Regions from separate parts of the Homo sapiens genome. Here regions 2 and 3 are each linked to region 1. The links come from fine-mapping of genetic effects on gene expression. A gene starts in region 1. Each other region holds a variant in brackets. All regions are shown on one strand. Distances are between the middles of the regions.

Region 1 (2,754 bases):
CACTATCTAAATCAGCACTGTCCAATATAACTTTCTGCGATGCTGGGAATGGGCTATATATAATCTGCACTGTCCAATAAAGAGGTCACTGAGCTCCTGAAATGTGGCTAGTACAACTGAGAAACTTATCCAGTCGTTAGTGACCATCTTACTGGACAGCTCAGCTCTTGAATCTGCCTCGACCCGTCAACTCTTTAAACTCGCCCATGTCCTCTTTTTCACTAGCGAAATAATTCTTTTTCTAAGTAACCTTCACTGATTCAAGGCATCAGAACGTCAACTGATCCCAAGCCCTTTTTTTCTTTAGCTGTTACACACGTGTGTTCACCGTGAACCTTCACCAAGAAACAGCATCCATATAAAACCCATAGCACATGACAAAGTCAGTCAAACATCAAAGGTCATGAAATCATCTACTTAAAATAACTCATCGCGCCTCGACCTCGTGAAGCACGGTCTCGAGGGTGGACGGGAACAAAAAACAAACAGGGCGACAGGCGTAGAGAAAATGCGAGGAGCACGCGGGGAGGTCTGGCACCCCTGTCACGGCGACTCCAGGCTGAGGCCGCCCGCACGCCCGCTCTCCCACGCCGGGCACTGTCGCTCCCGGCACGCGCACAGGCCGGACACGACTCGCCCCGGCCCCCACCCCCAACGGCGGCACGGCGGCACGGCGGCACGCACCAAGACAGTGCGAGAGTCGCTCCTCTCTCTGTATCGACTCCAAGCCGGCCCCACCCCCGGCTCCTCTGAACCCCGCCTGGAAACCTTGCCCAAGCCGCTCATTGCTCAAGGCCCCCGTACAAAATGGCGGCGAGGCCTGAGGAACCAACCATAGAGACGCCCGCCGGCCGCGGACAGAGCGTAGGCCTCTGAGCGCTGGCCCCGCCCCGCGCCGGCCTGGTCTTCCGGCGGGGGCGGGGAAAGGGCGCATTTCCAAGGGCCCTTCTAGGAGAACAGCGTGCGGTCTCCATGGTGCCGGGTCATCCGAGTCGGGTCACGTGGCTGGCGAAAGCCGTCGCGGAGGCGTGGGGAGGAGAAATGGGCGGGAGGCTGTGGGGATAGCGAGACACCCAGCGACGACGAGGTTGTCATGGTGCCGCGGGGCCGTGCTCGCGCATGCGCCACCTGACCCACAGGCCGGTCGTGGAGCTGCGACCCCGGCCCTAGGTGAGAAAGGGAGGGCTCGGTCCGGGAGGAGGGGAGCAGGGATGACGGCGGGAGAGGGATTGGGCGAGGAGCGTGGGGAAAGGAGGTGGAAGTAGGGGAGAGAGGAAGAGGAGCGAGTAGGCAAGAGGGGCAAACCGGGACTTTCGGAGGACGGAGAGCCAAATGGTGGGAGCAGGGCTTTGGTTTGCTGTGAGGGGCGTGGGAGAGGGAATCGCGGGTGAGGAGGGGGCTGCGTGTGGGGAGGAGGCTTGTGTGAGGGGCAGGTGGGCCCTGGTCTAGCCCTGGGCGCAACCGCCAGCCGGCTGGGCGGGGAGAGAGCTTGGAGTCCAGCCCGGCTGGGAGCTGAGGGCCAAGCAATGGGCAGGTGAGTGGGCGCCAGAACTAGTAACTGGGCGAGGGTCCTGGGCTTCCGGTTTGAGGTCGGGGGTGGTACCCTGTTCTGGCTCCAGGGCACAGGTGTGCTGCCTTTTCCAGAGACCTGCCGTCACCCTCGTTGCTGGTTGTTTCCCCTGAGTGGCCAGCTTGCCAGGCTTGGTGTCGGGGGTAGTGTTTCTGGGGAGAAGGTGGGCAGTGCCAAGTAAGGAGTTAAGTGGTTAGTGGGTGGGTTCGGGGGAGCTCTGATCCCGGCCCAGGTCACAGGCTGGAGCTAGGCTCCCTGTTATTGCTCAAGTCCTGGCAGTATGCATTGCCTGGGCGTTTGCCCTGGAAGGCTGGTGGTATGCCAGTCACAGCACAGTACTAGGGTCTGCCCAGTTTTGCCCTGCTGAGCTGGCAGGCTGGTGGATGCCTGGAGGGTGCACATGCTGCCTGGCACAGATGCAACGTGGGCTGGTGCGAATGGGTAGGTGGGCACTGTTACTGTGAACTAATTGCAGCAGGGGATCGGAGAAAGTTCTCTAAGCTCATCTCCCCTTTGAAAGGTGAAAATAGAGCCAAACTGGTCTAAAACATAGGAAATTGTATGGAATTGGGGTTCAGGATCTTTGACACGAATTTTCAGCCAAGTTGGAGAAATGGAATGAATGTGGAAGGGAAGATGAATATTAGACATTTAGGTAGACAGGGTTTTTCCACTGTTAAGATACCCAGACATTCTCCCAGAATGGTATCCCTGAATATGCAGGCCAAAAGAAAATGACTTCGGAGAAAAGCTAGTAATGTATTTATAATTCTAACGGGGATTACTCAAGGTTTTCTTTCTGTGACCTTATCACTTTATTGTATTTAAGCCTCTGGTTGGGCTTTTACCTCACACTTCTGTCCAGGCACACATGTTATACACGTGACACATTTTAAAGGGAACTTGAGCTTCCAGGAATGTTGCCAAGTGTCTATAAAAGGAGAGATCTGAAAGCAGCATTTCAGATCCTTTTCTTGTAACCCTGGATCTCCTTTTTAATCATAAGGACAAATCTTCACAAAGATTGTTTGTGGATTAGATCAACCCTTAATTTGGATGGTGGATTTGTCCCTGACGTTTCAACTTAGAATAAGGGGTAGATCAAATATCTGTTTCCTGCAGGGGACCAGACGTGGAGGTTAGATCTTAAGGTGACCGTGGTGTTTGGAAATGCAGAATCTTGA
Region 2 (2,754 bases), 35 kb before region 1:
ACTCAGAGTCAAGTGGCATTTATGGGGTACCTACTATGTGCTAGACACTGTATGAGGCCCTTTCACAGGTGTTAGCTCTCTGGTAAAGCTCCCAAGTTTGCAGATCCCTTCTCCATCACCCTGTCTACAAGTGCAGATCAATCGTTAGTTCATGCTTGGTGCATCAGGACTCAGTGGCGAGCAGGACAGACATGGTATTTTCAGGGGCAACACAGCGGGGGAAAACAAAGAGATATACATGTGCCAGATAAGGAGCTATTGGTTGTTTTTAGGGCCAACTGTGAGGGTTCCCAGTGCTTTGTATCAAGAATGACTTTCTTTTTAAGGGTCTCTTGTAGAGAGAAAGAAATAAAGACAAACCACAGTTGGCTTGCGAGACTCACATTGGCTTTGCCCACAGTTACTGGTTTTTTTTTGTTTTTTTTTTTTTGTGAGACGGAGTCTCACTCTGTCACCCAGGCTGGAGTGCAGTGGCACCATCTCGGCTCACTGCAAGCTCCGCCTCCTGGGTTCACGCCGTTCTCCTGCCTCAGCCTCCCGAGTAGCTGGGACTACAGGCACCTGCCACTACGCCCGGCTAATTTTTTGTATTTTTAGTAGAGACAGAGTTTCATCGTGGTAGCCAGGATGGTCTCGATTTCCTGACCTCGTGATCCACCCGCCTCGGCCTCCCAAAGTGCTGGGATTACAGGCGTGAGCCACTGCACCCAGCCTGCTCACAGTTACTGTTAAACACCACAGTAGAACCTGCCAGTAGCTGAGCACACGCAGGGCGCCAGCCACTAGACAGCATGGTTATCCAGCCACTAGACAGCATGGTTATCCATCTCACTTCCTCCTCTTTCCAGCTGCCCCGCCTCTCCATGGGGTTTTTCACAAGACGATCAGAGACCCAGAGACCCAAAGGAAAGGGAGACAATGGGGATTGGAGGCCACGGGCTTTAGGGGAAGGTAGGGGGCAAAAAATAGAGCATATGCAAAGCCCTGTCCTTGTTACTTCCCTCCCCAATCTCCACCACCACCCAACTGGCATATGAACTTGTTCTTCTTGTATACAGCTCTGAGCAAAGCACCATATGGCAGTTTCATCAGGCCCACGGCCTGGTTTCCATCCAGCCCACTCTAATTTCCTTCCAGTCATGGATCTGCAGAATAACCCATCCTGTGGAAGGAGCTCAGAGGAAGAAAAAGATAACAATAACAGTAAAGATATACAGAGCACAAACCACAGCGGGGAGCTGTTCCAATTATGTGTATGTTTGACGCTTGCAACAGCTCTAGGAATATCGCTGTTAGCATCCCCATTTTATAGATGACAAAACTGGGAGACAGATGTTCCGAGACATTCTCAAGGTCACATGGCTAGTGATGACAGAGCTGGGATGGGAGCCATGTTAACCGTCAGACTTTGCTGATTC[G/A]CTGAATCTTGGCTAAAAGATGTTGGCAGGAAGGGCTGAGAGCTTAGAAGAAGGGGTCCTCCCGGTCTGGCTGGGACAGGGTGATGCCAGCAAAAAGGCCCCTAAATCCACAAGCAGGGGAGGGGCGGGGTCAAGGCCCGGCTGACCTGACTCCAGCAAGCAGGGTCTGAGCTCCATAAGTGGAGGTGTCAGGGAAGCATGCAGAGGACTGGGAAGCAAGGAAGACCCCTGGAAGCAGCCCCCGCAGAGGAGGGTCAGGGAGGGCTGGGGGGCCCCCAGGAGCCCCAGGAGCTTGTCCCTCTTTGGGCTTCCTTCCGTGGCTAGGTTCTCTGCTCACCAGGAGTAAAGGGTAAGCATCCTCTCTGAGCCTGCAGAGCAGCAAGCCTGCACTGAGGCATTGTAGGAATGAGTGGCCCCTGGGATGGAAGGACCTGGGTATGGGTCTCAGCTCCATATCTTTGGGTTGTGTGGCCAAATCACACCCCATCACTCCCATGTCTGTGAGCCTCATCTATAGGGCAGTTAAGGAATGTGAATGGGCTGAAGTATCAGGAAACCAGCTGGGATCCTATCTCAGAAGAGGTGTATAGTACATGATCGTGCCCCTAGCCCCCATTCTTCCTTCTAGAACAAGGAAGGAGAAAACAAAGGCTCCCCGGGCAGTGAAGGCTGGGCCCTTGGTAGGCTTGGCAACCATGCAATCTCTAGAATGGAAGGGCTCCTCCCTCAGAGCACAGCCCTGGAGAGTCACAGCTGTTGCCCTGGGTCTGGCAGGACGAGGGAGGCAGTGCCAGGCTAGATAGAGAGTTTGAGGGACTCTAGGTTGGCAGTGGGGACTGTCATGCCCTGGCTCCTTTAGGATTCACAGGCCAGAGTGGTGGCTGTAGCCTAGTCCTCACTGCCAGAGACCCCACACCACAGTGGAGCCTGCACCAGGCACAGAGGCAGGAGGCAGAGCCATGCTTGCCCCTTTCTGCCATCCCTAGGATGCTAGAGGTAGCATCCTCCCAGCATGCTGGCAGGTGCGAGAAGGAGCTTTACTTGATGTAGCGACACCCCTGCTTCCCCCTGAGCCTTTGGGTTCCTTCCCACTTATGTCCCCTGCTGCGGGTCCACATGAGGGGCTTCTCACCCCGAGGCTGCCTCTACAGTGTCCACTGGACAACCTGGCCACCGCAGCCCCAGACTCAGATCACAAGGCCAGGATGGGCCTAGGATGCTTTGACCCTTCCAGCACAGCAGGAGCCTTTTGATGTGGGTCCAGGCAATGTCCAGCTCTCCTGCCCAGGGCTCGTTCTTGGAGAGTAAATGGGAAGGAACTTTGGAGGGAGCTGCT
Region 3 (2,754 bases), 27 kb after region 1:
GTCACATCCCAGACCTGTCAGACTCTGGGGAAAAGACCTGCCTTCCCCCACCCCCATGGATATTCTCTAAAGCTCCTCAGGGGATTGCAGATAGGCAGACAAAGCTGGGAATAATTGCAGTGGGTCCCTTGTGGGGGATTGGACTTGGGGCTGGGGTGAGGAGGCGTGGGGACCAGTTCCACACAGCGAAGTAACTGTCATCTGCAGTATCGCCAACACCTGGGAGCCTATGAGAAATGCAGAGTCACAGGCCCTGCTGATTCAGAATCTACATTTTACCAAAGTCCCCAGTGTTTCCCCGCACTGTCGAGTTTCATTAACACTGGCACCAGCTTTTACTAATTGCTCACGGTGCTCCAAGTGCACAGCCAGGTGTTTTACACACACCATCTCATTTAATCCTCACACCCCTCAGCTATGAGCACCCCCTTTGACAAACAAGGAAAAATCTGCCGTTCCTTCAACAAATCCTTCCTGAGCACCCACGTGCGAGGCTCTGTGCTAGAGACTGAGAATGAAAAACGGGCGCTCCCCTGCTGGGGAAGAGCTCAGAAGCCAATGGGATGTGGATTTCAATGTCTTCCCAGCTGTGTGTTCCTGGGCGACTTTCTCAGCCTCTCTGAGCTCGTTTCCTTTTCCTCTTCCGCCGAACAGGGCTAAAAATCACACCGCACAGGGCTTGGTGCCTTCCCTAAGCTAAGTACTCACTCACCAGGCCTGGTTCTAGCGGGAGCTCAGGAATGGTCGCTATTGTGACAAATAGAAAACCCGCCAGGAGACAGAGAGGAGGTGGGTCCCTGGACCGCGGTGGCACATGAGGGCTAAGAACCTCCCAGGAGGGGCTGGGCTCGGAGCGCGCTCTCGGAGACGCGGTGATGCGCGGGGCCCGGGCCGTGGACAAGACTGCAGTGTCCTGCACTACCTGCCGCCCACTCATCAGGCCGATTCTCCTCACCTTACGCTTAGATGAGTTTCGAGTAAGACCACTGCTGGCATCAAGAGTCTGGGCCCATGATCTCGCCCTTTCGGGCTAGGCGAGGCAGACCCAGGTTGGCTGCGGCCCGCGGTCCCCGCGCAGCCAACACTGGCAGCCAAGCGCGGGGCGCGCGCGCCGGGAGAGTGGAGCGCGGAGGCCCGACGGCGCCCCCTCCCGGCGGGCCCGAGCCACGGCCGCGGGCTCTGGCGGGTGCCGGGGAGGCCACGCGCGACGGCGTCGCAGCCGGAGCCCAGACAGA[C/G]GCCCCACGCTGCGCGGCCTTCATCCCACGGCTGGGGCGATGGAAAGGTGGTCCCGACACGCGCAGGGGTCTGAGGAATCGGCTTCGGGATTCTGTGGTCTTTGTGGTCCGCAGCCGGCACCACTGCTTCCTGTAATTTAATTTTCTCTCCCGAAAGCGTTGCTAATTAAATCCTTTCTCCGGCGAGCCGTCGCCCCCCGCCCCTGCTAGTCTGTTTATTAAGTACCCGGCACCTGCGAGGGAATTTTTGCCCTCGGCGGCCGGCGGGTCAGGTGGAGGGGCCGCGCTGCCCCTTAGCTGCGCCTCCTGGCTTCCTTCCCCAGGTCTCCTCCCTCTCTTTCCACCTGGAACAAGACAGCAATCCTTGAGGTCTTTGAGCAAACGCAAGAACCGTCCTTCTCCTGCTGCTGGTGACCTCTGCTGCTTGGGGCATCCAATTCATGTCAGTTCCCCTCCCCTGTCTTTCCAGCTGTTCAGTCGTATTCCCACTTCCCACCACCATCTCCCCGCACCGCACGCTGGCCACGTGGAAGGTTTGCGGAATGGGGCCCAGGGGCTTGTGGAAGGTCACGCAGCCCATCCAGGGCACAGTCGGAACTAAAACTGAGCCCTCTTGAAGCTTGGCTTTCAGGGGTCACAAACTCAAAGCCTTCAGGGGCCAGATAGCCAAGGGTAGAGTGTGGGGTGGCTCTGGGTTGGGCAATGGTTGGGGGAGTCTGTGGCAAAGTAAAAGGTATGTGCCCCATTGAGGGCCAGGTGTGTGCAATCCTCGCCAAGTCTAAGAGCGAGTCCAGTGTTCACGGAGGGCAGTGACCCGCCCAGGGTCACGCAGGGATTCAGAACCACTGGGTACTCCGGGTTCACAGTGTGATCTTTCCAGGATGCCACTTACTGACTGAGGACTTGGGAGCAGTCCTGCTCAGTCCTGCACCCCAGCCACCTCAGTCCTTGCCCCTCTGGCCTGCCCTGCCCAGGGTCACCACATCCCGCAGGGCCTCCTTCCCCACAGAGTACCTCACACCTTGGGCACCACTCTCCCCTCCCCTCTACCTAAAATCACCCCTTCAGACAGCTTCTGGCCACATCGCAGCTGTCAATCAGAAAAAGAAGGCAGCCTCATTTCAAGGTATTTGGTGGCAAATACCTCCCAGAATTTGAAACAAAGGGCCTGGGGAGCCAAAATACTATTTTGAAGGACACATTCATGGTAGGGGAATTTCAGGCATCACAAGCCAGCCAGAAAGGGGTATTTGGGGACAGGAAGGCTGGGGAGAAGCCCACACAGAGGACTGCCTCTTTGGAAGGCCTCAGCGCCAGCTCTGCTCCTCTCTGAGTTCCAGGTCAGCCCCCTGGTCCCCTCCTACACAGCTTTTTGGCCTTCCATGGGGGTACCCTCACATACAACCCCACTTCAGTAGCTGTCTGTTGCCCTCTCTGGAGAGTTTTTCCTCTGTCATAGACAGGCTCTGCAGGTGTTTTCCTCCTCACACCCTACTTTCATTTTAGAGTCTTTGGTGGC

Direction of the effects. Alleles are on the strand shown, and positions count from the first base shown. SD is a standard deviation of normalised expression in the study named. Not every link is listed here.
With allele G in place of C in region 3, the expression in Th17 cells of the gene that starts at base 1,067 in region 1 is higher (large effect, 1.3 SD a copy in Schmiedel 2018).

The links. PIP is the estimated chance that this variant, and not a neighbour inherited with it, causes the effect.
Region 2: its variant is the best candidate, but not a certain one, in a credible set for the expression of CIPC in esophagus mucosa (GTEx, PIP 0.82).
Region 3: its variant is the best candidate, but not a certain one, in a credible set for the expression of CIPC in Th17 cells (Schmiedel 2018, PIP 0.87).

What each region holds. Positions count from the first base shown.
Region 1 is chr14:77,097,192-77,099,945 of GRCh38, forward strand. It overlaps CIPC (CLOCK interacting pacemaker), which reads left to right and starts at 1,067. Exons shown (of 4, transcript NM_033426.3): 1 at 1,067-1,170. It overlaps LOC124903350 (a long non-coding RNA gene), which reads right to left and starts at 827. Exons shown (of 2, transcript XR_007064275.1): 1 at 685-827. RefSeq lists enhancers at 298-347, 709-1,538, 1,678-1,837 and a silencer at 528-677.
Region 2 is chr14:77,062,549-77,065,302 of GRCh38, forward strand. All of the region lies in intron 2 of LINC02288 (long intergenic non-protein coding RNA 2288), which reads left to right. Among named protein-coding and RNA genes, the nearest start is that of LINC02289, 12 kb to the right of the region's middle. The variant G/A (reference allele first, on the strand shown) is at 1,419.
Region 3 is chr14:77,123,968-77,126,721 of GRCh38, forward strand. No RefSeq gene overlaps it. Among named protein-coding and RNA genes, the nearest start is that of ZDHHC22, 16 kb to the right of the region's middle. RefSeq lists a silencer at 1,043-1,272. The variant C/G (reference allele first, on the strand shown) is at 1,236.